Linked DNA regions of Homo sapiens: region 2 is linked to region 1. Evidence: fine-mapped expression QTL. A gene starts in region 1. The other region holds a variant in brackets. All regions are shown on one strand. Distances are between the middles of the regions.

Region 1 (15,762 bases):
CCGTGTTCACGCCATTCTCCTGCCTCAGCCTCCTGAGTAGCTGGCACTACAGGCACCCGCCACAGCGCCCGGCTAATTTCTTTTTGTATTTTTAGTAGAGACAGGGTTTTACCGTGTTAGGCAGGATGGTCTCGATCTCCTGAGCTCGTGACCCACCCGCCTCGGCCTCCCAAAGTGCTGGGATTACAGGCGTCAGCCACCGCGCCCGGCCAATTTTTTTTTTTTTTTTTGACAGTGTCTCACTGTCACCTAGGCTGGAGTACAGTGGTGTAATCACCGCTGACTTGCAGCCTCGATTTCCCAGGCTCAGGAGATCCTCCCACCTCAATCTACCAAGTAGCTGAGAGTGACTACAGGCATGTGCTACCATGACTGGCTAATTTTTGTGGGGTTTTTTGTTTTTTTGCAGAGACGGGGTCTCACTATATTGCCAAGGTTCATCTCGAACTCCTGGGCTTAAGCGATCCTCCTGCCTTGGCCTCCCAAAGTTCTGGGACTACAGGTGTGAGCCACTGCACCCAGCCTGATCTTTTTGCTTTTTAAACCAAGAGGGTCTAAGAAGTAACTAGACCCTCGGGGAATACCCTGTATGTACAACTATTTTTATAAGGACTTCAAGTAACTCAGCTTGGGGCTTATGCAAAACTGTTACTTCACAGTTCATTCCAAACTAAGGGGCTATTTTAGTGAAACTAAAGTGTAGTTAAAACCTTCATGCCTAGGATCAAATGAGATCAAGTACACGAAAGCAGTAATGCTGCCCACCATGCTCAACCCATATGTACACATACATACAGATTTACCCAACAATTAACCCACTTTCATTTCTCCACTTGTTATGGAATTATACTGAGTATATCACGTCATTTCAGTTCTGAAGATGAAATCACCTTCAGAATTTCAGCTTGGGAAATGCAGAGTTATCCATAAGCTCTTTAGCTTCTCTTTAGTAATAATTCCAAATCACAAGGAAAAGTAAGGGGGATAGTTTACCACAAAACACATGTCCGAGAAACAGGCCATCCTATGTTACTGCCATCAAATATTTATAACTACCCTTATGCACAGCGTACTCTACCACACTAGCTAGACAACCAGCGCTTTAAAGAAATGGACATTATAGCCAGGGGTGGTGGTGGATGCCTGCAATCCCAGCTACTTGGGAGGCTGAGACATGAGAATCCCTTGAATCCGGGAGGTGAAGGTTGCAGTGAGCCAAGATCGTGACACTGCACTCCAGCCTGGGCAACAGAGCAAGACTCTGTCTCAAATTAAAAAAAGAAAAGAGAAGAAAAGAAACGGACGTGAAAACAACCCCAAACTGTGCCACCTTAAAAGCAGCCACTTGGCTGGGCGCGGTGGCTCACACCTGTAATCCCAGCACTTTGGGAGGCCGAGGCAGGCGGATCACGAGGTTAGGAGATCAAGACCATCCTGGCTAACATGGTGAAACCCTGTCTCTACTAAAAACACAAAAAATTAGCCGGGCGTGGTGGTGGGCGCCTGTAGTCCCAGCTACTCGGGAGGGTGAGGCAGGAGAATGGCGTAAACTCGGGAGGCGGAGCTTGCCGTGAGCCGAGATCATGCCACTGCACACCAGCCTGGGCGACAGAGCGAGACTCCATCTCAAAAAAAAAAAAAAAAAAAAAAAAAAAACAAAAAACAAAACAAAACAGCCACTTGCACACTTGTAAATGCTCACTTAATTGTAAATTGACTTCCATCAGTCAAGCCCCTCAGACTTTCTCCCCTAACTGGCTGACTCCATACATACCACTTCAGCAAGCAAAGCCGTACACTACCAGCTTCTCTGGATGTGGAAAAGTGGACCAGCAATTTGTTAAGATAAAATGCAGATCATGTAAAAATATGTCGGTTTTCTAAATTCCTCTAATTCCACACACTATGAGAAAAAGTAAATTTACTTTTGTGGTTAATGTATCTTTACCTAAATATCTTATTTCAAATCGTATTCTGAATTCTGCAAATTCATCAATAACTAAAACCCCCATCCCTTACTCATTGGTATTAACAAAAAAAAATGCCCCCCCCCCCCTTTTGAGACAGAGTCTCGCTCTGTCACCCAGGCTGGAGTGTAGTGGTGCAATCTCGGCTCACTGTTAACCTCTGCCTCCTGGGTTCAAGCGATTCTCCTGCCTCAGCCTCCCGAGTAGCTGGGATTACGGGCTCCCGCCATCACGCCTGGCTAATTTTTATATTTTTAGTAGAGATGGGGTTTCACTATGATGGCCAGCTGGTCTCGAACTCCAGACTTCAAGTGATCCACCGGCCTCAGCCTCCCAAACTGCTGGGATTACAGGCGTGAGCCACCGCGCCCGGCCAAAACCATGACTTTTAGTTCCAACATGATCAGTATGTAATCTCTTGAGCTACCAAAATACATGGAAATTATCTTTTGATAACCATTAAGTACTAAAGTATTCATGTTTCATTTAAACATAGTTTCTGCTAAACTCAAACTGCTATGAATTCTACAAGGCACCCTGGATGCAGGACAGCGCCTGTTAGCACCTTCCTATTAGATTTTGACAGCTCCTAGATCCCTTTGCTCAGGCCTCTTTCAATCACAGATCCACCCAGCTGTAGTTGTCTCATCTTGAGGCTTTCACCAGATACAAACTAGCTTTTTCAGTCCAGCCTTTTCATTTCTGTTTCATTCATTCCTCCGAATTTTAACGATCTTTTAATACTCAAAGGTCACCATATTTTGAGTCTCCATTCAGTTCTGAGAATTTATGAAGCTTTAAAGTACTTATAGGGAAGAGGTTCCACCGCTTATATGGAGTACTAAACGTAATCATCACAGGCATTAGATTAACTACGATGGCAGGATTATTCTCAGTCTATTTAGTATCTCAGCAATTTAGCTAGGTAGCATATGAATATACTAATAGGATACTGACCTAAAAAACCAGCATTGAATTAATAATTGCCTTTGAAGTAAAAACAGATTTTACACAGGCAGATAAGATCCTTTTGCTCTAGATGGTTTTCAGGCCTTCGTTAAAAGTAGTATTAAAACAGTAAAACAAAACTCAAAAAAACCCGCTTTCTATTATCGTTCTTTTCATGGGGAAAATAGATACCTTTCTACAAAGTAAAAACCATAAAGGCTTAAAATTAAACTACCCGATTTTATTTACTGGCAAATGTCCACAGTTGAGTAAACTAACCCAACCTATTCAGAAGAGCTAAATACTTGAGGGAAAAAAAAAAAGCTTTCCCAAAACGTAAGTGACTAAGAATTATTCGCTAACATTCACAGGCCCTTTCCACTAGGTACCGCAGGAAGGCGAAAAGGCCAGGAATTCGCTGGCAACGGCGGTGACAGGCTCCGACTGACGCTCGGAGCCCGCACACGCGAGCCCTACGTGCAGCCCCAAGTCCCGCCCCGCAGCAAACGACGACTTGGGCGAGCGTGACCGCCGGGGCAGGGTCCAGCCCGGCGCTGGGTGGGCGGGGAGCAAGGAGGCCGGAGGGCGCCCACGAGTGCCAAGCCCCCTCCTTCTGGAAGGTGCCACCGGGGAGCAGTTGGGAGTCCGGGGAAGTTGGGGGCGGGCGGGGCAAGCGCCCGCGGCGCCCTCCAGCGGCCGATGGGGTAACGGCAGCGCCGGGCGGGGGCGGGGGCGCGCGTCCCGGAGGCAGCAATCCCTGGCCCGCGAGGCCGCGGCGCAGCCCCGCCAACGACCTCCCGCGTCCCGCCCGGGCCGGGGGCGCGCAGCTGCCGCCACAACGGGCCGGCGGGCGCGCCCGTTGATGCGGGCGCGGGGAGCGAGGGCGTCGGGGAGCGAGCGCGCCGGCCCCTCCCCCGGCCGTCTCCGCCCCGCGCGGCGCTTCCCCCTCTCGGAGAAACTACGCCATTGCGGCCTAGCCGGGCGGCGCCGGCCCCTCCCCCCCGCGGCCTGCCGCCATCTTCGCGGCCCGCCGCCCGCCGCCGCCGCCGCGCCCCCGCCGCCGCACGGCCCGCCATCTTTTGGGGCCGCCATACTTGCCCTGGCGAAGAAGATGGCGGCGCCCATCACACACATAAAACATGGCTTCCCTTCAAAACAAAAACATCCCGGGGCCGGGGCGCGCGGCCGGCGCTCACCTGAGGACCACATGGTGACCGAGAACTCGCCCTCCAGGGTCTTGATCTGCACCTGCTTCTGCTCCCACTTCTTGTTGCCCGGGTCGGCGCCGCCGCCGCCCGCCGCGCCGGCCCCGCCGCTGAGGTAACTCTTCTTGCCGCTCTTCTTGCCGCCGCCCTTCTTGACGCGGCCGCCTCCCGACGACGACGAGCCGCCGCCGCCGCTCTTGCCGGCCGCCGCCACGGTGACCAGCGTTTGTTCAATGTAGTCGTCGTCGCCGCCGGCCGGCGCGGGCACCGGGATGAGAATCTGATCCTCGAAGCCGTCCTCGGCGCGCAGCCCGTCCGAGTCGTCGCCGCCCACCACCTCCTCGCGCGTCTGCACCAGGATCACCTCCTGGTGGTGGTGCACCTGGGTCGGGTCGTCGGTGACCAGCGGCTGCAGAGCGATCATGGGCGGGTGGTGGTGGTGGTGATGGTGGTGGTGGTGGTGGCCGGCGTGCCCGTGGCCGCCCCCGCCGCCGTGGTCGCCACCGCCGCCGTCCTCGTCGTCGTCGTCCTCCTCCTCCTCCTCGCCCACCACTGTGGTCTCGATGGTCTCCACCGGGATGGTCTCCACCTCGATCTCGTGCAGCTCCACGATCTCGGCCGGCATCTCCGAGCCGTCCGTGGCGATGTAGAGGGTGTCGCCCGAGGCCATGGCTGAGGGCTCCGCCGCCACGGCCGCGGCGGCCTCGGCTCCTCGGCTGCGGGCGGGCGGGCGAGGAGGCGGCCGGCCGTGGGGAAGGAAGGCAGAGGGAGGAAGGCGGCGAGCGGGCGGGGGGAGAGGGGGCGGGCGGCGGGGGAAGGGGCGGGCGCCGCGGCGGCGGCGGGGCTTCCCCGCCTCCCTCGCCTCGGTGCGCCCGCGCCCGCGCTCGCTCGGCCGCTGCTCGTCTCGGCTCCCCGCCTCGCCTCGCCTCGCCGCAACCGCCCGCCCTGGCCGCGCCTCCTCCCGCCCTCCGGGCCGGCGCTCCGCTTCCCCCTTCCTCCTGCGCCTCCGCCTCCTTCCACACAAATACCAACTCCTCAACCCGAGCCCAGATCTCGCCGCCGCCGCCACACTCTGCTCGGGCCCGGCCTCGCGAGACTTCCGCGCTGGCCTCAGCCCGCCCCGCCTCGCTGCCACTCGCCCGTTCGCCCTCTCGATTCTCCTCTCGGCCAATCGATCTGTCCGCTGGCCTCCGCGGCCCCGCCCACTCGCCGGGCTCCTCCCGGATTGGGGCCGATGGGACCGGGGGCGGGGCGGCTCGCACGCGCCCTGGCTGGCCCGCGGCGCGTGACGTCAGCGCGCCGCCGCCGCCGCCACCGCCTCCCGCTTCCCGGTGTCGCGCGGCTGCCGCCCTTCGCGGTGCAACAGCCACAAAACCCGCCGCCTCGGGCCGGGGCCGCACTCGGGAACGGGGCGTCGCCGCTACAGCCGCTGCCTTGGGAGCCGGTGAGCGGTCCGCGCGGCCCCGGGCACCACGGGGGCGGGAGCCTGAGGAGAAGGGAGGGAGGGGCCGGCCGGGAGCGGGGTTGAGGCGGGTGGGCGGCCCGGGGGCCGCGCGGGGAGCGGCTGGCGCGTGCGGGGCGGCCCTGTCGCCCCAATAAAGTCTGCTTTGACGAGAATCGCCTGTGCTTCCTTTTTCGCGTCGGGAGGTGTTTGTTCTTGTCGCCTGGCTTCGGGCGAGCGATGGCCGCGGGGTGAGTGTGGAGGACCGAACGGACAAAATCGGGCGACGCGGGCAGCGTCCGGTATCTCGCCGCGAGCGCCCGGCGGGGTGCGGGGCCGAGCGCGGGGTCGGCGCGAGCTCGGCGGAAGCGCCCGCGGAGCCCCAGGGCCACCGTTGGGAGGATGTCCGTTATTCTTTAGTGACCCGCGGAAACCTGAGACGCAGCCGTTGGGTGCCTGTTTCCCCGTAGATCTTAGAACTACAGGGTCCTGGCGGCTTTCTAAAATTTTCTCCTGAGCTTCCCCTTCTTTGCTCTCCAGTCAGCCATTGTTTCCCTTGCCCACCCTTTCCCCCTATTTGTCACTTTCATAGGTGCTCCTTTTTACGCCCACCAGGTTTTGCATTTGTCTCATTTAAAATTCCAAATTTTTTCAGCCGTGTCCTCCATTGTACCTGCAACAGAGCCTAGATTTTTTTTTGTGGCACGGATTAGCGGCAAGTTAAACCTTCCTGAATGAGTTACATTGCAGCGAAGTGTTTCTGCTCTTATCTGTCCTTTTGGTCGACCTGACAATTTGCCTTAAAGCAAAACAAAGATTTCCTGATTTTTAAGGAAACTATGACAAATTGAAGAGTTGGAAAGGTGTGTCTTTGTTGTACTCGTTTGGCCGATTTAACGCCTCTGTGAATTTGTTCAACTTAAATATTATCAACATTTACTGTTTTGTAATAGTGTTCATGCAGTTGAGGCCCATGATTTTCTGAACTGTACGCAATACATTAATCTTAGGCTCAACTTGTTAAAACAAGTAGACTATACATTCTCATTAAAAGGCAACTTTATAAATCCTAGTCCCTTCTTATTGCTAAATCGCATTGGACTTGACTTTTGAGAATATTAGTGTAAGGAGTGACAAATTAGATCGTTTTCTCTTTGAATCTGAGCTTTGAAACCTGAATAATTCCCCTTGGAGTACTGCACCCACTCAGTTTGGAAAAGTCAAATCTGTTGAATTAAGTCATCTCTGGCTTTATAGCTTATAAACTCTGCATAAATATTTCATGAATGGAAACCAGTTGTGGGAGAACTTTTACATGTCTTAATGCTTTTTAAATTTCACTTTCCCCACTCTCTAGTAATTGATGGGGAAATGGCACTGCAAGTAGTTGATACTTCCCCATAAACACCAATTGTGAGAGCAAGAGAAATGAGGGAATTACCCATTAAGCATCCTGGTTTCTGAGCTGTAGATCTGTAGGTGTTCACATTCAAGTGGAGAAAGCCCAAAAGGATTGAAAGCTTTGAGGAAAGGTAGTAGGTCAGAAAGCACTAAAATGCTCCTGAAGGCCATCCTAGTACCTGCTCCAGAAAATAGCTTTTTAAACTTGCCCCATAGGAGGTGACCTGTTAGGCCTTAAGTTTTTCTAGTGGGAGATATTCTTGTTTTCTACTGTTTAACGGTGGAGTATCTTATGACTAGACATGCAAAGATAATGTGTCGTGTGGCTCTCGCTTGCTTGCACTTGCTAAAGGTAAAAATTATTTTAAAAGGACAGGTCAAATTGCAGTTTCAGAATCATGGGATTCTAAAAGTGAGGATAGGCTGGGCGTGGTGGCTCACACCCATAATCCCAGCACTTTGGGAGGCTGAGGTAGGTGGATCACCTGAGGTCAGGAGTTCCAGACTAGCCTGGCCAACATGGTGAAACCCCGTCTCTACTGAAAATACAAAAATAAGCTGGGCGTGGTGGTGCACGCCTGTAGACCCAGCTACTTAGGAGACTGAGGCAGGTGAGTTAATGGAAACCAGGAGGCGGAGGTTGCAACGAGCCGAGATCGCGCCACTGCACTCCAGGCTGGGTGACAGAGTGACACTCTGTCTCTAAAAAATAGTAATAAAAGTGAGGATAAATTTAACTGCTGTGGGTTTTTTTGTTTTTGTTTTTCTGAGGCAGGGTCTAGCTTTGTCTCCCAGGCTAGAGTGCAGTGGCACAATCATAGCTTACTGCAGCCTTGAACTTCTGGATTCAAGCAGTCCTCCCATCTCAGCCTCCCAAAGAGCTAAGGACTACAGGTGCCCCACCACATGCCCAGCTAATTAAAAAATTTTTTTTTTGGATATGAGGTTTTAAGGGCTCTGTTGCCCAGTCTGGTCTCCTGCCTTGGCCTCCCAAAGTGCTGGAGTGCACCTAGCCTCCCTACTTTTATTCTGTTCTGTTTGTACAAAATGCATTGGGATTCCCTCTGAATTCCTAGAGTCCTTTTATTTTGGCAATAATTGATTATTGTCTCTCAACCCTATCTGAGCAAAGGCCATGGCTTTGTCAGCTCAGTGCCTTGTGCATGAAGTGATGCCTTGTACGTGAAGCTTGCTTTTTTTTTTTTTTTTTTTTTTTTTGAGATGGAGCCTCGCTCTGTCACCCAGACTGGAGTGCGGTGGCGCAATCTTGGCTCATTGCAACCTCCGCCTCCCGGGTTCAAGCGATTCTCCTGCCTCAGTCTCCCGAGTAGCTGGGACCATAGGCCCGCACCACCACACCTGGCTAATTTTTGTATTTTTATTAGAGATGGGGTATTGCCATGGGTGGCCAGGCTGGTCTTGAACTCCTGACCTCAAATGATCCACCCACCTCGGCCTCCCAAAATGCTGGGATTACAGGAGTGAGCCACCGCGCCTGGCGATCACTTGCTTTTTGATTCATGCAAAAACGTGAAGTTTAAAGTACCATGGCAGAGGGGAATTCTGTGTGATGTTGCTTGACCATTTCTTAGTCACTACAACCTCCGTCTTCTGGGCTCAAGCGATTCTCACTGCGGTGAGCCGAGATCATGCCATTGCACTCCAGCCTGGGGAACAAGAGCAAAACTCCATCTCAAAAAAAAAAAATTGAACATCAGCAACTATAGAAGAAATAATATTAGATACATCACAACAGTTGTGCAGAGCTTTCTAGAATCTCCAAGAAATCAGAGCTCACTAATGGCTGAGGAGATGCAGTGACAAATATTCTACAAGTAATATTCCTTTGACTACCTTCTCAGCACAGCAGCAGGACAAAGATGTGGACTGTCAGCTGACAACTCCTTTGCCATCTCCTCACCTCCCTCATTTCCCATTCATTCATTTTCTGAAACTTTCATTAAATACTCAAACTTGGGTTCAAGGAAGGAGGGTGAGGAGTGAGAGTAAGCAGAAGAATAAAGGCTATTAAGAGATGCTGATACCTCTCCTTCCTTGCCTAGTCCAGACAGTGTGTTCTCCTTTATTGATTACAGGGAGGCTATTAAATCTGATTCAGCTATATCTCTAACAGATTGGGATTGATTCAAGTCATGAACTCATGCTAAATAATTTTCCTTATCAGAACTAATTTGGCTGCCTCATGAAATTGCTTTGTGGTTCTAATGTTTAGTTCTTTTGCAGTTCCTTCAAGTAGGAAGGAAATAGGTGCTCTGCATCAGTTACAGTATTGAGACTGTTAGAGCCAGATGGGGCATCTAGTCCACATTTCATTTTGCAGACAAGGAAACTACCTAGGAGATGTGCTCAACGTCACATGGCGGTGTGGTAAAAAGGTAGTGATTGAGGTGAAAAGCGAGAGCTTGACTTTCCTGCCTTTTGTGAGACTGCAAAACCTATGTAAGTTTCAGTAGTGTGATCCTGTTCCAATTCACATCCACGCCCAGTTTTCAATGAAATGTTTACAAAAATCAGAATGAAAATTTTTGTGCATGCATCCAAATTAGTTACCCCTAGTTTGGATCCAAGTTAAATGAAAAACTAGGTATGTACATGTTCTTAACTGTCTAAACTATAGATACCTTCTTGGTTGTGGAGTCTTTGAAACCTGAGCTATTAAAGGGATACTTTCCCACCAAATCAATGCATATATTAGATTTGGAGTTTAAATTATGGTGAAATACCCTGTGTTTGTTTGTTTTTTTTTTTTTAGACAGGGTCTCACTGTGTCACCCATGCTGGAATGCAGTGGTGTGATCTCTGCTTGCTGCAACCTCTGTCTTCTGGGCTCAAGTGATTCTCCTGACTCAGCCTCCTGAGTAGCTAGGATTATAGGTGCATACCACCATGCCCTGATAATTTTCTTATTTTTAGTAGAGACGGGGTTTCACCATGTTGCCCAGGCTGGTCTCAAACTCCTAAGCTCAAGCAATCCACCTGCCTTGGCCTCCCAAAGTGCTGGGATTACAGGCATAAGCCATTGTACCCGACCCCTAACTATATACTATATATGTTTATATGGGGTTTTTTTGTTGTTTTTTTGAGATGAAATCTCACTCTGCCACCCAGGCTGGAGTACAGTGGCACAATCTTGGTTCACTGCAACCTCCGCCTCCCGGGTTCAAGCAATTCTCCTGCCTCAGCCTCCCAAGTAGCTGGGATTACAGGCACGCACCACCACGCCCTGCTATTTCGTTTTTATTTTTAGTAGAGACAGGCTTTCATCATGTTGGCCAGGCTGGTCTTGAACTCCTGATGTCAAGTGATCCACCGGCCTTGGCCTCCCAAAGTGCTGGGATTACAGGCACCATCCACCGCACCCAGCCTCCTAACTATATGTTAATAGGTGAAATCTCACGTCTATAAAGCTGGCACCCTTTATGTAGTATTTTATGTCCTTTTATAAGACCTTAATTAAATTCTTTTTCTTAGGCCAAGTGGTTTATTACAATGATTGAACCTGATTATTGCCCATAAATATAAAGAAAGTTGAAATCTTTAGTAATAGATTAGCCTCTGTTTTTCTCTGCTTTGCTAGTATAACGTCCCTCCAAAGAAGAAGCTAAATCAACTTAATTGTACTGAAGTTGCTCCTACTGCCCACCCATCCCAACAAATATGGAATGCACAATTAAACAGAATGGAATTTTTTTTTTTTTTTTTGAGACAGGGTCTCACTCATTGCCCAGGCTGGAGTGCAGTGGCAGGATCTCAGTTCACTGTAGCGTCAACCTCCCCAGCTCAAGAGATCCTCCCTCCTCAGCCCTCCAAGTAGTTTGGACTACAGGCATGCATCATCACACCCAGCTATTTTTTGTAGAGACAGGGTTTTGCCAAATTGCCCAGGCTGGTCTTGAACTCCTGAGCTCGAGGGATCTGCTCGTATCAGCCTCCTAGAGTGCTGGGATTACAGGCGTGAGCCTGGCCAGAAATTCTTTAATCCATGGTAACGTCCTTTTTTTTTTTTTTTTTTTTTTTTCTGAGACAGAGTTTTGCTCTGTCGCCCAGGCTAGAGTGCAGTGGCGCGATCTCAGCTCACAGCAAGCTCCACCTCCCGGGTTCACGCCATTCTCCTGCCTCAGCCTTCCGAGTAGCTGGGACTACAGGAGCCCGCCACTGCACTTGGCTAATTTTTTGTATTTTTAGCAGAGACGGGGTTTCACCGTGTTAGCCAGGGTGGTCTCGATCTCCTGACCTCATGATCCACCCGCCTCGGCCTCCCAAAGTGCTGGAATTACAGGCGTGAGCCACCGTGCCCGGCCAATCCACGATAACTTTCATAGCCACACTGGTTTTCACAGAAGCACATTTATTGCAGTGTGGAAAATACAGGAAGTCGATTCAGGTATTTGTGTGTGTGAGGCAGGTGAGCGTGGTGGAGTGGGAAGAGCTTATGTGATTTGGGAGTTAACTTGTCCTCTCTGTGAAACTGGGCAGTAACCTTTCTGATAGGAATTTTTTTCTGTTTGTCAGAAAGGAGTGACGCCCCACAGGGAGTTAGGTGAGACCAGCTGTTCAGTCACCATTTACCTCGCACTTGCAGTGCAAGGCCCAAAGGATAGATATAGCTGTGAACAAGAACAAGACAAGCAAGCCTGGCTTCACAGAGTCTACAGGCCAGAGGGACTTCGGCTGTGAACAGATAGTTCAAAAATACATATCTAAAAAATTTCTTTTTCTTTTGAGACAGAGTCTCTCTCTGTCGCCTAGGCTGGAGTGCTGTGGCACAATCTCAGCTCACTGCAACCTCTGCCTCCCGGGTTCAAGCGATTCTCCTGCCTCAGCCTGCTGAGTAGCTGGAACTACAGTCATACGCCACCACACTCGGCTAATTTTTTTGTATTTTTAGTAGAGATGGGGTTTCACCATGTTGGCCAGGCCGGTCTGGAACTCCTGACCTCAAGTGATCAACCTGCCTCGGCCTCCCAAAGTGCTAGGATTACAGGCATGAGCCACCGCGCCCAGCCCATACCTAATATTCATTTATAGAAGTCCTACAAAGAAGTGAGAGTTTGGGGACAGAGAATCTAGCCTAGCCTCGCAAGGTAAAGGCCTTCATGAGAAAGGGACATTTCAACTGTGACTTGAAAGTTGAACACAACAAGAAGTGCCCATCCCAGTGTTTGGCTTTTTTTTTAGTGTTAATATCTGTGTGAAACAGGAGTAGATAAAATAAATCAGGTGATAGATCTGTAAATATTTTGAATAAACTCAGAGCGCTCAGTATAAAAGGGCTGTATTTAGCCTTGGAAAATCAACAAATTAGTTCACTGAAACTGCTGCTGAGGATGGCTGTTGATTAACATTAGGCACTTGATTAAGATTAGGTCCTACTTTTTAATTTTTACTTGTTTTTTATAAGCCATTTCTTCCAAGTTCCCATTGAACTTGGGGGTTGATAGTGGAAATTGTTTTGGAGTTCTGGGCCTTGGAAGGTAGACCAGCTGCCAAGGGAATTAGAAAGGTTCTTAGCTGCAAAACTGGTAAATGGGAAGAACAGAACGTGGAGTCATACAAATTTGGGTTCAGGTCCTGGTTCTGCCATTTATCACCTGTGTAACTATCAGAAAAACTTGTAACTAATCAACTTGTCATTTTTTCAGCTGTAAAACAGGAATAAGCCGGGTGCAGTGGCTCACACCTGTAATCCCAGCTCTTTGGGAGGCCAAGGTGGGTGGATCACTTGAGGCCAGAAGATTGAGACAAGTCTGGCCAACATGGCGAAACCCCGTCTCTACTAAAAATACAAAAAAATTAGCTGGGCGTGGTGACACATGCCTGTAGTCCCAGCTACTTGGGAGGCTGAGGCAGGAGAATCGCTCATACCCGAGAGATAGAGGTTGTGGTGAGCCAAAATCACGCCCCTGCATTCCAGCCTGGGCGACAGAATGAGACCCTGTCTCAAAAATAAATAAATAAAACGAATAAAAATATCAGTCTTCAGGAGTTATAGAAATCTGTAAGGGTAAGTAAAATACTTGAATCAGGTGTGCAAATTAAGGAAGAGGGCACAGTGTTTGTACTCTCCAGGACTGGTTCTGTTTCCTTCTTACCCTTGTTCATAGGTGAACTGGCCTGCCCACTCACATCTTAGCATCTGTGTTTGTTCTTTGCATTTAGGCACTGCTGACTTCAGGACTAATGCTTATAGACAGGACCCAGTGTTCACTTAGTTTCTTAGGGTAGATGAGGACACATTGCTAGCCAGACCTTTTTTTTTTCTTCTTCTTCTTCTTCTTCTTTTTTTTTTTTTAAGAGATTTGGTATATTAGTGATAAGCTTTTAAAATCTGAGCCTCCAGAACCTGATGTGTTTGCCTCCTAGGTATCTCTCAAACCCAACTCTTCTCCATGCCTGTGACTGCTGTCCTCACACGGGCTCTGGCTCTCTCCCCTCACCTCTGCTGACCAGCTGCTCTAACTGCCTCCAGTCTTCCTTCCCCAAGGCACTCCTGGATTTTCCTAGCATTAGCATGTAACCGTATCACTGCCCTGATCAAAGTCTTCAGGGGCTTCCCAGGGCTTCAGCTCCTCAGCAAGGCATTCCCAAGCCTTCCAGCCTTATTCCCCGTCCTTCCTATTACCTCGAGGTGTGTGGACCATGACAGTTCCTATCTTTGTTTTCAGAGCGATCTTTTCCTCTGCCTAAAATATCCTTTCCCACCTTCTTCAACTTTATACTTCTTCCAGGACAGCCTGGATGACCTCTCTAGGACACTTTCCTTGGAAGGGTGTTTCCATAGCACTCTCCCCAAATTGTTGTCATTGTACTTACATTATAATACGTGTGTCCTTACATTTTAATACATGTGTCCGTTAATGTTTTTATTTTCCCACAAAAGCACACGAGGTTCTTCGAGGGCAGGGATGGGTGTCTCATTTGCCTCTTATTTCCAGAGGGAAAAGAGTCAGCCCAGTCTGGACACACGGTGGGCCCTATGTGAACAGAGATACCTGCTGATGCTACTGCCTCTGCCCTCCTTCACCACCTATTGCCTGTAGGGTAGTCCAGAATCCTTAGCTGGGCTTTAAGCAAACATGGTATGGCAAAGAAAAAAGACCTGATTTGAATATTTATTGACTATTTAGTCCATTGACTAGCTAAATGATCTTAGAGGAGTTTCTGAATCTCTCTGGGCCAATTTCTTCATCTGTAAAAAAGGAATATTACTGTTCAATATTGTTATAAAGTGTGATTGAAATAACGTACAACACTCCTGGCATGTAATAGGTGCTAAATACATTTCCTCATCTCTTACTGTTTTTCTCCCTCCCCCCTGCACTATTCTGAGCAGCCTCCACCTGCCACACACACACACACACACACACACGCACACACTGAAGTCACAGACGCTTCGTTGTTGGTGAATACATCCCTCCATTTTTCATCCCTCCACTAAGGGATGCCTTCTTCACATCCACCTGCCTCTCTACTCTGTTCAGATCCTGCCTGAACTAAAGGCTTGCCCAGATCCTGCAGTTAAAAGGAATTTCTTCTCATTCCTTTCCTGCTCTATTTCCCTATAGCATGTAATATTTCTAACTTAATAGTCAGCTGTCTTATTTTAATCACTTGAAGATAGTTAACTGGGTTGGAAGCTTCTGGGGGAAAGGATGTTTCTTCTGCATTTTTGTAGCTCACTGTGGTTCTGAGCACTCTGGGTCTGGAACATGTGAAGTGTTAAATAAATGGTTGTTCACTGTAGCCCGGAGAGTTGGGGATGATGGGAAGATGCTTCTCAACCTGGCTAAACAGTGTCTTCACAGTCTTAAAGGAATCAGACTCTCTGGGAACTCAGTTTTAGCTTACTTGTCCTTAAGACTTTTGAGTGTTATTAATCTCTATGATATCTGGCAATTAGACATAATTCTAGAAAATCCATTTCAAACACAATGAAAAATCAGTCTTGGACTTCGTTTATAATGTGATGAAGGTAAGGAAATTGCTTGCCCCAAACTACATGAAAGTGATATATATTTCTAATTATGTTCTCAAAGGGATATTCCAAAAGGAGTTAGTGCTGCGGAAATCCTTGAAGTAGACTGTGTTTTGGGAAAATCATTTCGACAAGCTCAGATTCAGCGTCCATAGAAAACAACGATTTCCAGTCTTATTGATTGATGTATTAAGCCAGTCGTTAGCAGGGAACAGTGTGCAATCTGTGTTACAGGTAGTTAGGGATGTTTTATAGACGTGCTCACACATACCTCTTCTAGCCATTAAGTAGTAATTTCCCTTGGACTCTGCTTATCCCTTTTTTTCTTCAAACCTTTAAACTCTAGATGCAAAGCTTCCTAGATGGAGAATAGAACTGTTCCACTTCTGGCGTCTACCAGAAGTGGTAGAAGTGGCTTCTACCCATGGCCTCCAGTAAGTAGCCATTTCCAGCAGTGAGTTCATGCTGAAAAGATTCATTAGTACCCATCTCTTCCAGTGTTCAGAGTCACAAACTAGCCACTGCCCTCACACATGTATAGCTCTTAAGTCACATCTCCTCATCCTATATTTGGACTATTGTTCTTTTAGGGTCCAAATTTAGTAGCTTACTTATTACATAATAAATGTAATGTGTACATTTTCATCTTATTAGATATATCTGTCATATGAACCTACTGATGTTGGGGGGGGCGTGTCTTGACTCTCATTCAACATATTTGTTACCTGCCAGCTTGATATTAATAATAACAGCTAACTCTCATGTAGCCCTTACCATGTGCCAGGCATTGTTCTAAGCACACAT
Region 2 (14,223 bases), 48 kb before region 1:
CCCCCAAAGTGTGCAGAGGGCTCAGCAGAGAACAGTATGGGACCCCCTCACCAGGCCTGGAACACCTCCAGCCACAAAGAAGCCAAAGGTCAGTCCCTCTGCTCCCCAGCAAACGGTGCCTCCCAGGCATTCTCAGTGCCAGGGCTTCATCCCTGTGAAGGCACAGGGCCTGCTAGTGGGCACAGGGGTGGCTAGTTGGGGCCTGGGGCAGAGGAGGGCTGCACCAGGCGTCCTGGGGAATGTGCTCAGTGAAGACGACACTGGGCTTTGCACAGCCTGGTGTCGCTGTACAGAAACTGTCAAGGGAATAAAGTGTTCTTTGTTTTTTAAGTGGCGAGGCTGCCTTTGCATATGGTGGAGGAAAGGGCTTCATTCAGCACCCTTGCCCTGGAGTCGAAGGGGCCAGCTCAGGGGTGCGTGTGCCCTTGGACCCTGACAGCAGCCTTGGCCATGTGACCTGGGCAGTTGCGGATACATCTGAGAGCCTGTTTTCTCATCTGCAAGGCAAGCTAATGAAGGGCGTGAACACGCTGGTGCAGCCTGGCCATTCAGCAGATGCCCCTCTGCTATCATCATCCCAGCAATGAGAGAGAGAGGCCTGTGGTGAGGGGCACTGGCGGGCGGGGCAGCAGGGGCAGGGTGTGTCCCAAAAACAGCTTCCTGGAAGAGGGGAGGTCTGAGTGGAGCTGACCATTTCAGCCACCCGGGCAACTTGGGCACAACTGTACTTAACCCAAACTAGGAGGTCAGAGAGGGCTTCCTGGAAGAGGGCATCCTGGAGCTTTGCCAAAGGTGTGGTGTGGGGGTCTCACTGCCCACCTCACCTGCAGTTCTGTTCAGCCTCCTGGAGTCAGCCCTTGGCATCCTGAGCCTCTGCAGCCACCAGCCCTGGAGGCTTTCCCTCCCAAGTGCTGAGCCAAGAAGCTCTGCCCACTGACAAGGGGGAGTCGGGGAGGGGCCCCAGTTCCTGTGCCTGTTTAACCCTAGTGCTAGCCTGGGAAGTTGGGCTTTACAGGGAGGCAGGAGGCGGGGAGGAAGCTGGCTGTTGACCCCTGGGGTCTCCTGGCCTCTCTCGCTTCTCTTTACTCTGAAATAAACCAGGGGAAGCTCCCAGGGATGGGGGAAACACCCTGGCCATGGGCACAGAGAGGGGCCCCTTCCCTAGCTCCTCCATGTCCAGCTTTGGCAGCCCCTTTGCCTCTCTAGGCCTGGGTGGCTGAATCTCTCAGGGCAGCTTGAGTGTGGCCTGTGGCTGTGGTCCCCATCACCCTGGATCTCTCCACACATCTGCACTCTCTAGAAAGGCCCCAACGTGACCCTTGTCAGGAACTAATTTGAGCCCTGCTCACCCTGGGGCTTCTCCACGAACCCTGCGGCTGCCTGCCCTCTGGGGACAGCACACAGACAGGCCAGCCCTTCAGAAGTGAGGAGTGGTGCGGCAAGGAGCAAGGTGAAGGGGCGGGGGGCTTCTAGCTCCCTCCCACTTCCCAGTTCAGCGGCCTCACATGACCAACACATCTGCCAGGCAGGGAGTAGAGTTGTTGTTTTTAATGAATTTATTTTACATTTTCTTTTCTCCCTGATTTGAACTTTTTTTTTTTTTTTTTTTTGAGTCTTGCTCTGTTGCCCAGGCTGGAGTGCAGTGGTGCTCTTTCAGCTCACTGCAACCTCTACCTCCCGGGTTCAAGTGATTCTTCTGCCTCAGCCTCCAAGTAACTGGGATTACAGGCGTGCACCACCACACCTGGCAAATGTTTCTATTTTTATTAGAGACAGGGTTTCACCATCTTGACCAGGCTGGTCTCAAACTCCTGACCTCAAGTGATCCACCCGCCTCAGCCTCCCAAAGTGCTGGGATTACAGGTGTGAGCCACTGCGCCCGGCCTCTGATTTCAATTGATTTGGAATAAGTGATATATGAAGTGCTAAAAACTAAAAATACTACCAGAATCCAGGCTTGTGCAGTGAAGAGGAAAACCTCCTTCCACCTCCCAGGGGCCAGCCTCTCCTCCTGAGTCGAGGACAGTCTCCAGTTCCCAGAGGGCATCCAACACATCTTGGGCAAGTGCCAGCATGGAGCAGCGGAGGGACATCTGCACCCCCTACAAAGTGTGGCCGAGGTCCTGACTGTTCTGTTCTTTGCTGTCTTCCCTTGACAGTGATCCTGGAGATTGCATCCTTCTCCTAGGGCTGCCGTAACAAAACACCACACACTGTGGCTAAACAATAGCCAAGTGTCCTCTGAGAGTTCTGAAGGCCACACTCCAGCTGCAGGCAGGGTTGGTTCCTTCTGGGGGCTCTGAGGGACGAACTGTTCCCTGCTTCTTCCAAGCTTCTGGGGGCAGCTGGCAATCCTTGGCTCCCTAGGCTCACAAGAGCATCGCTCCGATCGCTGCCACCATCTCTTGCCGCCTTCTCCTGTGTGTCTGTGTCTCCATGTCTTCTCTTTGTATAAGGGCACCAGTCATATGGGATTAAGGGCCCACCCTACTGTAGTATGACCTCATCTTAACTAAAAACATCTGCAGAGACCAGGTTCCAAATCAGGCCAAATTCAGTTGCCTGGAGTTAGGACTTGAACGGATTTTTCTGGGGCCACAATCCAACCTTCAACAGGGCTCTGTATTGGTGTGTTTGAATGGTCCTCCTTCCTGCTGACAGCTGCATGGCATATTTCATTGGATAAACTTTGCTTGATTTGCTTTTCCAGTCAGGTTTGGGAGAGTAACTGGGGGACACGTCTGAGCAGAGTCCTAGAGGAAGAGCAGCAGCGGACGGGGCCACAGATACCACTAGGCTGTAGCTGGAAGGGCAGATGTAGCCAAGGTCCCGAGGTGGAAGGGGTGGGTGGGGGCTGGGGAGGGGGGTGAGGCAGGGCCTGGAGGACAGCAGGGCCAGACGTTCAAGAGGGCCACCAGGGCGGGTCACATGGCAGTGCCTTGGGGACAGTGGCAGATCCTCCTAAGTGCCAACTGCTCTTGAAATCTCAACTTGATCTGGGCTTCAGTATGTCTAATCAAAACAGCTTCCCAAACTGTCTTTTTTTTTTTTTTTTTTTTTTTTGAGATAGAGTTTCACTCTTTTCACCCAGGCTGGAGTGCAATGGCACAATCTTGGCTCACTGCAACTTCCACCTCCCAGGTTCAAGTGATTCTCCTGCCTCAGCCTCCTGAGAAGCTGGGATTATAGGCGCAGCAACCATGCCCTGCTAATTTTTTGTGTTTTTAGTAGAGATGGGGTTTCACCACGTTGGCCAGGATGGTCTCAAACTCCTGACCTCAGGTGATCCGCCGCCTCAGCCTCCCAAAATGCTGAGATTACAGGCATGAGCCACCGCGCCTGGCCCCCAGACTGTCTTGCGGCCGGAGCTGGCCATATGTCTGACAGCTTCTGAGAAAGCTGTGAAACAGGTAAAACACACTGTGGCACACCCCTTGACCTCTGGTCTCTGACCTAGCTCTCTGCTTCCCACTGAAAAGGGAATAGGATGCCTGGAGGTGCAGTGGGAGAGACCACGGCCGTGAGCCACTGAGCCAGCCTGGCCTTGGAAGGCTGGTCACACTCCTCTCATTCAGCACACTATTCCTGTCATTTGCAGCCAAATGCACCACCAGCCGCCATGCAGAGCTGACTTTATTTCGTTGCATCAGCAGCTGTGAGCAGGTTTTACCCAGGGGAGTGACAGGATCCAATTTATGTTTTGAAGACCCCACAGGAGGTTAGGAGGCAATAAGAGGCAGGCCAGGGTGGGGGGCAGAGGCCATGAGGGAGTCCAAGCCAGAGGACCTCTTGAGGCCAGGAATTCGGAGGGGGGGGGTGGTGCTCCAGTGGCAGGTGGGCGAGACCACTGGGGAATAAACGGCAGAAGAAGCCCTTGGAGGTGTTGAGGGTGCAGTCAAGGGAGGCGAAACTATGTGGCAGGAGCTAGAGTCTGAACTCCGCAGGGATCTGGAGTTTATGGCTCCTTCCTTGACCCCTTAAGGGAAAGGGCTATGAAACGGCACTGCCAAGGCATTTGTCTCTGGGGTGGGAAAGGGGGAGGGAGGCTTAAAGCGTGGAAGGGCAGAGAGAAGGGGGCAGGCCCCGTGAGGGCTGGTGCTCAGGTCCTTGGTGCAGAGTTCAGGCAAAGCAGTGGCAGTTTGGGGAGTCCAAATCTGATAAACTGTTTTTCCAATCTCAGAGCCCACACTGGCTTCACACACAGACTTCCCCTTCCCTTTTCTTTTGATCCCTTTGGACATCAGGTGCATGGAGTGAATGGAGCATAAGCCTCCTTGTGCCCTTCTCATCATTGGCCTGGGCCTTTAGTGAGTCATTTCTTATAAAAAGCACCCGTGAGGCCACACTGACCTGGGACCTTCACCAGCCCTCCTTGTGCTGGGTGGGTTCTTGTGACTGTAGGGATGGCTCAGCCCTATGCACACCCATCCCTTCATTCTCCCAACAGCCATACAAGGTCGGTGCTGGCACCCCCATTTTGCAGTGCAGGGTACCAGTTGGGGAGGGTCCCTGTCCAAGGCCACACAGCTAGTTGGTGCTGAAGCCAGCGCCAGGAGCCAGTCAGCCCATCCTTTGCCCTTCAGCAGGATCAGCTGGGGCCAGGCAACCCTGGAGCGGCAATGCAAGAACCAGAGGGGGCCTGGCCAGGGCAAGGGTCCAGGTCCCATGCTCCTGGGTCTCAGCTTCCTTGCTGCTTCTTACACACCCCTGACCTCATGGTACCCACCTACCCACGGAGAGGCAGATGCATTGCTGGGTCCAGAGGCCACTTCCCAGGGAACTGGGAAAGGCGGTGGGGCCAGTGTCCACCTTGATCAGGGCACAGCAGAGATAGGGCAGAGGCTGAGGGGAATGGGCCTGTGCCCCAGGGGCTCCTTGCTCAGCCTTGCTCTCCTCCGACTTGACCTCCCCCAGGATCGTGGGGAATGCCAGACGCCCCCACCAGCGCCCCTCTGCAAGCAACACCCCCCCCCCCAGCCATGCTCTGCCAGGCCAGCCAACACCACGCCAGCTGTAATGATGTCCCACAAAGTTTGGGTGAATGAGTAAGTTCAAATCTGGCTTGAATATCCTTGGGGATGGTGAGGACACAGGACAAAGAGCAGACACAGGGGAACATGGTGGGCTCTGTTTGGTGTTGTGACAGTACTGGCCGGTTTCTTGTTTATCTCCCCAACCTCTACCTTAGCTCCATGAGGGCCAGGGGTGCAAAGTCAGCATGCTGAATGAATGAGTGAATGAATGGGTGAGAGCAGAGGCTGCTGAGTACAGGGCCAGGTTGGGTTTTGCCAGGCAATACAGAGACGGGCCAGGGAAGACGGAATGTACACTGTGAGGCCAGAACACGCTTGGGGGCAGAGGGTGAAGCGGTGATGGGCTGGAGAGGGGCTGGGGCGGCCGGAGTGGCTCCAGAACCTACAGGCAGGGTGATGGTAGGAGCCCCCGCCACGCCCGTGGTGGAGCTCTCCGTGGGGAGAGGAAAAGCATCCCCAGCTTGGAGGGCTCCAGGACGTCCCTTTGGGCCGGCACCCCAAGGCCCTGTCTCCCCGCTTCCCGGGCCCGCCCCCTAATCCCAGGACCGCAGCCTCTCCCACCCCGCCCTCCAGGGGGCGCTGCTCCACCGGGGGGAAGGGGGGGCGTCCCAGGGCCTTGCTTAGCTGGGGCCCCCTGGTATGTGGCCCCTCCCTCCTCGGGCGTCGCCGCCGCACCGCCCTGCCCCGTGTCCCTGTGGCCCTGGCGGCGGGAGTCTCCTCCGCCCGAGGCCTCGGGCAGGTGGGGTGCACGCAGCCTCCTTCCGCGTTTCTCGGGCTCTGAATCTCCGCGCCCCCGTGGCCCTGGGCTCACTCCGCGCGGGGGACGCTCGTAAGCGGCGGCGGCTCGCGGGGACCCCACACTCAGGGATTCTGGACAGCCCCCACCGCGCCTCGGGTCCCCGCGAGGTCCGGGCCGCTCCGCGCTGCGCACGCGCAGCCCCTCCCCACAGCGGACGCGGCCCAGCCCCGGGGCCCGCTGGCACAGTGCCCTCCTGCGGCCGGCGGCGGCGGCGCACCCTGCGGGTGGGGGCCCAGGCGCAGGTCTAGAAGCCCCCGGGGCCGCCCGCCAGAGCAGCGTGGGGGACAGGCCCTGGAGCACTGCAGGGTGGCAGGGAAGGGCTGGGACAAAGGCGCGGCCCAAGTCCCCAGAAGGGTCTGGGGGCGGGCAGGGCTGCCCGCGCTAAGTGCTGGCCAAAGGCCAGGCGGGCAGGGGCTAGGGCTGGCCACCAGCTCCCGGGATATTCCTAGGGTCCGGTACAGACGCACGTGGCAGGCCAAGAAGAAGCCATGCAAACACCTGAGGGGCGTGCTCAGACCCCGTCCTGCCTCCTTGCCTCCTCTCCCTCCCTAGCTACCCCGCCCCCCCCCGCTTTTTTAGACGGAGTCTCGCTCTGTCGCCAGGCTAGAGTGCAGTGGCGCGATCTTGGCTCACAGCAACCTCCACCTCCCAGGTCCAAGCGATTCTCCTGCCTCAGCCTCCCGAGTAGGTGGGATTAGAGGCATGCGCCACCACGCCCGGCTAATTTTGTATTTTTAGTAGGGAGGAGGTTTCTCCATTTTGGTCAGGCTCGTCTCAAACTCCCGACCTCAGGTGATCTGCCCGCCTCGGCCTCCAGAAGTGCTGGGATTACAGGCATGAGCCACCGCGTCCGGCCCCTAGCCCCTATTTATCACAGCCTTATCCTCCTTCCTCCAGATGTCATGCCAGTGCCAGTAGGGCAATGCCATTCCTGCCTAAAACAGGGCCTGGCACATAATTGCATTGATCGAATCAGGGCCCCTGGAGGTGGAGAGGTAAGCTTTGGAAACGAAAACTCCAAGAGGGAGGGGAGGGACAGGACAAGAGGTGATCCATTAGGAAAGGCTGAAAAATGAGATAAAGCCAGGACTGGGCTCTGAGGGTCGGCGGGACTGGATTTTTCGGTAGGAAGTAGGGAACCGCTGCAGTTCAAATCACGTGCTGAGACCCTGTTAGCAGAAAGGCCGTGTGGGGAGGTCAGCAAGGACCGAGGGGAACGGTCACAATGGCGGGCAGTCGGGGAGCCCTGAGGACCCTTCCAAGGCCAGGAGGCACCACTGCGCCAGAACAGAAAGGGCCGCACACCAGGGAGGCCGATGCACTGCTCCATAAACAAGGGCCAGGGCTTTTTTGAAAGGGGACTGGAGGAGAATTCAAGCTAAGGAGCCAGTGGCAAGCAGAGTACCTTGGAAGCCAGGCAGGCTTGGGCTTTGAATTCTGGCTGCCTGGACTTTGCAAATAAATCTGAGCCTGTTCCTCTCTTACAGCATGGTGATATTGCTAGCTAATTCATCAAAGGGTGGTTTGGAGGAGGCCACTGGGTACATATGTGTTCTCAACAAATGTTATGGGCTGCGCATGGTGGCTCACGGTAATCGTAGCTACTCGGGAGGCCAAGGCAGGAGGACCACTGGAGTCCAGGAATTCAAGGCAGCAGTGAGCTATGGTCGTGCCACTGCACTCCGGCCTAGGTGATAGCAAGACCCTGTCTCTTACCAAAAAATAAATAAATAAATAAAATAAAAAATTATAGCCAGGCAGAGACACCGGCAAGTATAAAGGAGAGATACTGGTTTCATCTGTATCTAGGGGTTTCTAAAGAAAGCAATTCCAGGCCAGGCACGGTGGTTCACGCCTGAAATCCCAGCACTTTGGGAGGCCGAGGCGGGTGGATTGTGAGGTCAGAAGTTTAACACCAGCCTGGCCAACATAGTGAAACCCCCATCTCTACTAAAAATACAAAATTAGCCGGGCATGGTGGCACACACAACCTCCTGCTATTCAGGAAGCTGAGGCAGGAGAACCGCTTGAACCCGGGAGGCAGAGGTTGCAGTGAGCTGAGATTGCGCGCCACTGCACTCCAGCCTGGGAGACACAGCAATACTCCATCTAAAAAAAAAAAAAAAAAAAGCAATTCCAAAGCTTTAGTTCCTTCCCATGTAAAATCTACAGGTTTTCCACCGTCTTGCTCAGCTCAGCCCTACTTAGGGCCTTCACTCAGCAGTTCTGGGCTTGCACAGGCCTGCGACTTGCCACCTCAGTAGCATTCTGTCAGCAGCCCCTTCTGTCACTAGCAAAAAGGGAAAGTCACATGTATTCAAGTAATAATGAACTTCACGCCTCACTCTGAACCTTGCTCTGCAGAACATCAGACACCAAGGCCCCAACCAGAGGGAGGAAGCTCTGCTCTGCATTTTGCTTTTGGCTAAATCCTAAGTAGCTCTCAGTGTATTTGGTCAAGTTCTTCCGAGTCCATCCCAGTTAGCTCCGGAGCTTCCAGGGCTGACATGGGCTCATAGGTCCGGCTGCGTGGGCATTTCACTGGGCTGTGCTTTCTGAACAGTGGGTGAGGCTCTCTTTAAAACGCCCTCTTGCTCCTGAGCCCACCTTGGAGCTGAAAGGTTACAGAAGCATTTCTTGCTGGTGTGAGACCAAATCCTGGGAGTTCCCAGTCCTGTGTGTGAGAAAGCAAGCCGCAAGAACTGCCCCGGGCAGTTTAGGCAACTCTTAGACCAGGAAGGGCTCATGGCCTGGTTTCATGTGCAGTGAAACACTAAAGAAGTGGCTTAGAGGACTGAGGAACAAACAAGAACCACAGGCATTAAAAAGCTTAACATTATGCATTTATTATATTGTATAGAGCCATATTACACATGCTTGGTGCTTCAAACTGAGTTATCAATGTTTTTCTGGATGCAAAGCCATCTGATGCTGGATGCGGATGCCTTAAATACTATATTTCTGCATCTATGACCTATGAGCTAAGGAAAAACCAAGGACAATTCCAGAAATGGCAAAGAACACTTAAGAAAAAGATGTACATGAGACGAAATGCTAAGTCCTTGAGCCAGGGCCTACAGAAGTTACCAGAAAGCGAATAAAAACATAATTTTTCTCACCACCTGTTGATAATAGAGCCTCACATGTCCGGGTATGGACAATGTAGAAAAAAGAGGTTGTTCCGTTTGGTACTGATGCCTTTCTCCCCTCCGTGATGTGTGCGGACATTGTGCGGCCCCCAGAGAGAGCAGCAGACAGAACAGAGCACAGCAAACTGCCCCCTCCTCAACACATCCCAGTGCTGTTTTTTTTTTTTACAGCATCTGGGTGTCTCATGAAAAGCGGTCAATTTGATCAAACTTGCCACCTTGTGGAAAATCAATCAGTGTGCTTCAGATGAATGTGACGCCATCACACGCACCCTCCTCTGACATCCAGAATGCTGGCGGGGGACATGGGGCTGGGTGCCTGCTCGGCCAGGACGAAGCTCTCCATGTGTCACCTCCCACCTTACGGCACCCAGTTTGTGGGAGGTTTGCTTTGCCTGCTGACCTGATGCTAACGCTCAGCTTAAACGCTCCATTCCAGATTTTACAAGGGGACTGGGTGATAACGTGTCAAGTACATGCTGCCCATACTTCCCATCAAGCCTCAGTACAGTCCCAGCTTAAAGATCCTCTCTGGCACCACACTGATCCCTTGGGCCTGGGGGTGGATGCCAGGAAGCCTCTTGGCCACAAATCTGCCCTCTTGTGGGT[C/T]AGAGGCCAGCCCTCTCTTGCCTGACGTGACTTGTCTGAAGGGCCTGCACTTAAACCATCTTCAGGCAACCAGGGCATCTGAGCATAACCTGAGCAGTAACAACATAAATCAAGGGTCAGTAATTTGGGGTGGATGAGACCTAGCCAGCCATCCAGTCAGATGCTGCCGTGCAGGTAAGCATGATTCTGAAGGCGTGGGGTACCTTTTGTCCTGTAAAGTCAGAGAGAAGGCTAAGAAGTGCATGGCCAGAACCCCAAGAAAGTGCAGCTTGGAGTTTTGGCTTCCTTCCCCACCGCTTGGGTTAAAAGTTCGGGTGGAATGCACTTGCCAGGACCTGCTGGGCCTGAACTCTGAAGTGCTGCGCTCACATTACTGTCAGTGTATCCAGGACAAAGGGCCCGGAGCCAGACAGGTGCCCCCTACAGCCGAGGGTCCAAGGCAACCCTGTGACTCAGAGCTGGCTTCAGCAAGCCAGCAGAGCAGCTGGGAGGAAGCCTCATGGCATGGCTGTGGCATCAAGTGGGTGTCTGTGAGCAGCTTGGCTCTCACCACTGTTTTGACCTCTGGGATCCTTACTCTTGCTGGGGGTCAGATGTCAAGAAAATAGAAGGATTATTAAAGAATAATTAAATAATTAAAGATCAACAACATGAATTTCCCAAGCCAGGCTGATTTCCAGGTCACAGAAGTCAGAGACCCTGGAAGTGATCAACTCTCTTTGCCTATAGTCGGGGGTGGGGGGAGGTGGGTAGAATTGTCAGGTTTCCTTTTTTTTTTTTTTTTTTTTTTTTTTGGGAGACGGAGTCTTGCTCTGTCACCCAGGCTGGAGTGCAGTGGTGCGATCTCGGCTCACTGCAAGCTCCGCCTCCCGGGTTCACGCCGTTCTCCTGCCTCAGCCTCCCGAAATTATCAGGCTTCCAATTCCAAAACTTCTTTTTAGGGGGCCAGGTTTTCCTGTGCCACAAACTCTGGTCTGAGACCAGTCTGGGACACGTCTCCACAGTAAGTTTTGCAAGGCAGAGTGCAAACGGACGTGGGGCAGTCCTCCAATGTACGCACTCTCAAAACACTGCTCAGGCGGGCTTCCCCCGACTGGAAGTGACTCTCATCTACTTGTGAAGACATGAACTTGAACTCTGCTTGGAAACACGGACAGGTATTGCGCACACTATCCTGTGAAAGGGTCTTATTTAGCAAAATAAGTGACATTTAGAACTTTTACATGAAAACCAAATAGGAAAAAAAAAATCCCGATTTTCCTCAAATCCTCAGGCCTTGAATCTAGGCAAAGCACACAAACACCATATGAAACCAACAGCATGAGTTCAGGGTCATCTTGGAAAATAAATGTCACTCTGGGGTGACAGTTCTTTATACAAATAGTATGCTCCCCCTCTCAACTCCACTACCAAAAAGGGGGAAATAATAAGAAATTCAAAAATAGAAAACAACATCTTGTTAAGTGTAAACTTATCCTCTGGAGTTTTTATATTACATATGCTAGAAACATGCATTTATTTCTGCTCAGATGTACGAAAATATGTCTATCAGTATTACTTATAAATCAGATTAATCCTCAAGACAATGGACTCACTGTTAGAATACCATTTCAAACCTTAGTAAATTACATCGTTAGCAAAATTATAAATTCTAACCACAAGCAGAATGGGTTGAAGTTACACCCAATGAGAACTACCTCTACTCTTTATATTGTTGCTCATTTGTTAGTTTTCTATTGTTGCAAAGTCAGTGCTATGTTAACAAGGAACTTGTTTTCTTGGAACCCCAGATTAAACTCCTTACAGAAGTTAACTCTGCAGACTGAGAAGACGTGAACAGAGAGAGTCAAGGGGAGTGATGACTATTTCAGAGACAGGAAAGGACAGAAGAGATGACCAAAGGCACCCCCAAGGGATCAAGGCACAGAGGAAGAGGGACTTCATCCACACAGGAGCCTGGCTCCTGCAGGCCATGGCATGGCTCTCGGGGCTGCCAGCAGGGCTCCCCATAGCATAGGTGTGCTCTGCGGTGGGCCCTTGGGCAGGGTCCTGAGGACAGTGCCAGGGCCAGGCTCCAGTGCAGCACAATGTTGGGCAAAGGACTCCTAACACAGCCACGCTGGGGCTACTCAACCCGACAGTGGGGAGGGAAGGTGTGGGTGCTCACAAGGCAGGCATCCATAGAAGACGCTGCCCAGGTCCAAGTCAAAGAACTACACGTTCTCATCCGAGCCCTCGGCACTGAAGACCTCCACCATGGGCTGACCTCTCTCCTGACTGCCAGATACAGCAAAGCCTGGCTTACCCAGAAAACAGCTGGGGTCTTCTGCTTAACTCAGTTCCATCAAACTACCCAAGGGGTAACAGATTCTGGATGAATTTTTTAAAGGGTCTCAAGTTAAATGTTTCATTCATGATTCACAAAAGGCACTTCAAAATTCCACAGAGCCACAGGGTCACTGTTAGTAGGTCACCAATCCTCCTGTACAGGACCGATGGAGAAGCTCTAAGACAATGGGCTATGTGTTTCACCTGATGGGGTCCCTGGCCATTTGTAAATAAATCTCGGATATTAGCTAGTTTGTCATTTATCTTGCAGTCAAGCATACACAAAACAGAAAGACACACAGTATGTTTGCACTTTGAATAAATGAGATTTTGCTGTATCATGGCAGTTTATAAAGTATTCTCAAGTCTGTTATTTGACCTAAGATCCAACATTATAATCGTACATTTAAGAGGTTACAATGTGAGAGGTACTCATTGAGCAGAATTTTCTAATAATCTAATCACCTTGCCGATTTGCACCCAGTGTCCATTTAGAAACATGAAATTAAGCTACTGGCACTCAATTGCCACATTGCTAGCATTTAATAAGGACTCCACTAGATGGAGGAACAAGGGCTCTCAAACCAAATAACCAACGACCACAAGCATTTCCTGTCAGACAAGCCAAGGTCCTGCTGGAGCTGCCTCTGAAGGCAGCCGGCTGATGGACAGGCCTGGTCTTCCCTCTGTGTGCCCCACTGCCAGGTGGCACCTTACCCTGCGCAGGCGCTCAGCCTGCGCGGTGGTACAGATGCTTCACTCACACTTGCCGGGGGCTAAAATCACAGCCTATGACCAACCTGGCCTGGGGTGTTCTGAGGTAGTTCCTGAACTCGGGATGCCTGTTACCTACTCTCTTTCAGAAGTCAGGACATGTAGGAAGTATTAAAATATCCATGCATCGCTTTCATCAATAATCACTGTAATTGAGTGCAAAATAAAGGAAACTTGAGTTGCTTTATTTAGCTTCCAATTTCTGGGAGGCTCAAGAATTATAAGTATTCTGGACAACAAAAGAAAATAAGACTGTGCTTACAGATCTTGTTCTGCCATATTCTTGCTTTAGGATTGCTATTTTATTGTTGCCCTTTCTGTTACATGGGATGTACACATCAGGTGTTAAAAGGTACAATACATTCTACAACTGAGCACCACTTTCTGTAACTGAACAGGCAAAGAAATTACACTGAACATCAGCATCTGGCAGTATTTTTTTGGAAAAAAAAAGTGACTAAAATGGGTTTAAATTGATTAACACTATTAAATCACATCTAATATTTGATACTACATGATTCAATACAGCTATACGATACAATTATACAAAATGTGTTAACATCAAAGAATACAACCAAAATTAAGATAGCAAACAAAACCTATATAACTTTTTTTTTTTTACAGGAAAATACTTTTGAAGTATGCATGTAACTGCCCATTCTTTTAAAGAAAATCTACTGCAAGCAAAGTTATCAACCTCCAGAAAAATCACACGTAGCATTACTAAGCATATCCCCAAAAAAGTGTACAATATGCACACTTGGAAAATACAAAATTAAAAAAATTGTAAGCAACAGGTGAGCTTCATATTTATAAGAATGTGAAAAGAAGTCCCATTTTTAGCACTGTTGTATAAAGAATTGTCTTTTGATGCGAAGTTCATGAATTGTCCTCCTGTTGGGACCACACTTTACAAAAACACTGTGTTTTTGAAACGAGATTACAGAGCAAGATAGAGCATCTTAGCAATGTCATCTTAGTAAAGTTTTTTTTTTTTAATTTTTACTACTTTATCAAAACATGTCCCTTAGGTGTGTAGGATTCATTTTTAAAATTCTTCCTAGAAATAATATACAAAGGAGAGGCATATTTATTCCCAATCACACTTCTGGAAGATGCTTCCCGTGGTCGAGAAGGGTCTTCTCTCTTCTTTTCACTGGTTGTTTTTGGCCTTAGCATGTGTTAAGATGTGAGATTTCAGGTTAGTTGACTGAGCAAACTTCTTATTACAACCATCGAAGGGGCACACATAGGGCCTGTCTCCGGTATGGATTCGCACATGTGTGCGCAAATTGAAGTCCAGTGAAAAGCGTTTCCCACAGCCTTCGAACGTGCACTGTCAAGGAAAGACCAGAGATCAACCCACTCAGCAACTCTGACCAGACCCTGGGAGTCAGGAGCTCACTGCTTTGCTAGAGAACAGCCTATTTATTTTACCAAACACTTTTCATTCCTGCCCTGGGTGAACTTTGTGGATATAGTCTAGAATCAGCAGGCAGGTTGGACAACCCCGAAAACCCAAGGAGAGCCC

Evidence for each region.
Region 2: its variant is fine-mapped to the expression of YY1 in whole blood (TOPMed, PIP 0.93).

The regions. Positions count from the first base shown.
Region 1 is chr14:100,228,273-100,244,034 of GRCh38, reverse strand. It overlaps YY1 (YY1 transcription factor), which reads right to left and starts at 4,891. Exons shown (of 5, transcript NM_003403.5): 1 at 4,112-4,891. The coding sequence starts at 4,790. It overlaps YY1-DT (YY1 divergent transcript), which reads left to right and starts at 5,414. Exons shown (of 2, transcript NR_189150.1): 1 at 5,414-5,564. RefSeq lists silencers at 3,290-3,969, 4,240-4,289, 4,780-4,849, 5,000-5,079, 5,140-5,739 and enhancers at 3,980-4,139, 4,977-5,829, 10,709-11,209, 11,210-11,710.
Region 2 is chr14:100,277,223-100,291,445 of GRCh38, reverse strand. YY1 (YY1 transcription factor) reads right to left here. Exons shown (of 5, transcript NM_003403.5): 5 at 8,658-14,028. The coding sequence ends at 13,846. MIR6764 (microRNA 6764) reads right to left here and starts at 14,089; the gene lies at 14,029-14,089. SLC25A29 (solute carrier family 25 member 29) reads left to right here. Exons shown (of 4, transcript NM_001039355.3): 4 at 1-330. RefSeq lists silencers at 5,368-6,127, 6,158-6,267 and an enhancer at 12,133-13,113. The variant C/T (reference allele first, on the strand shown) is at 9,591.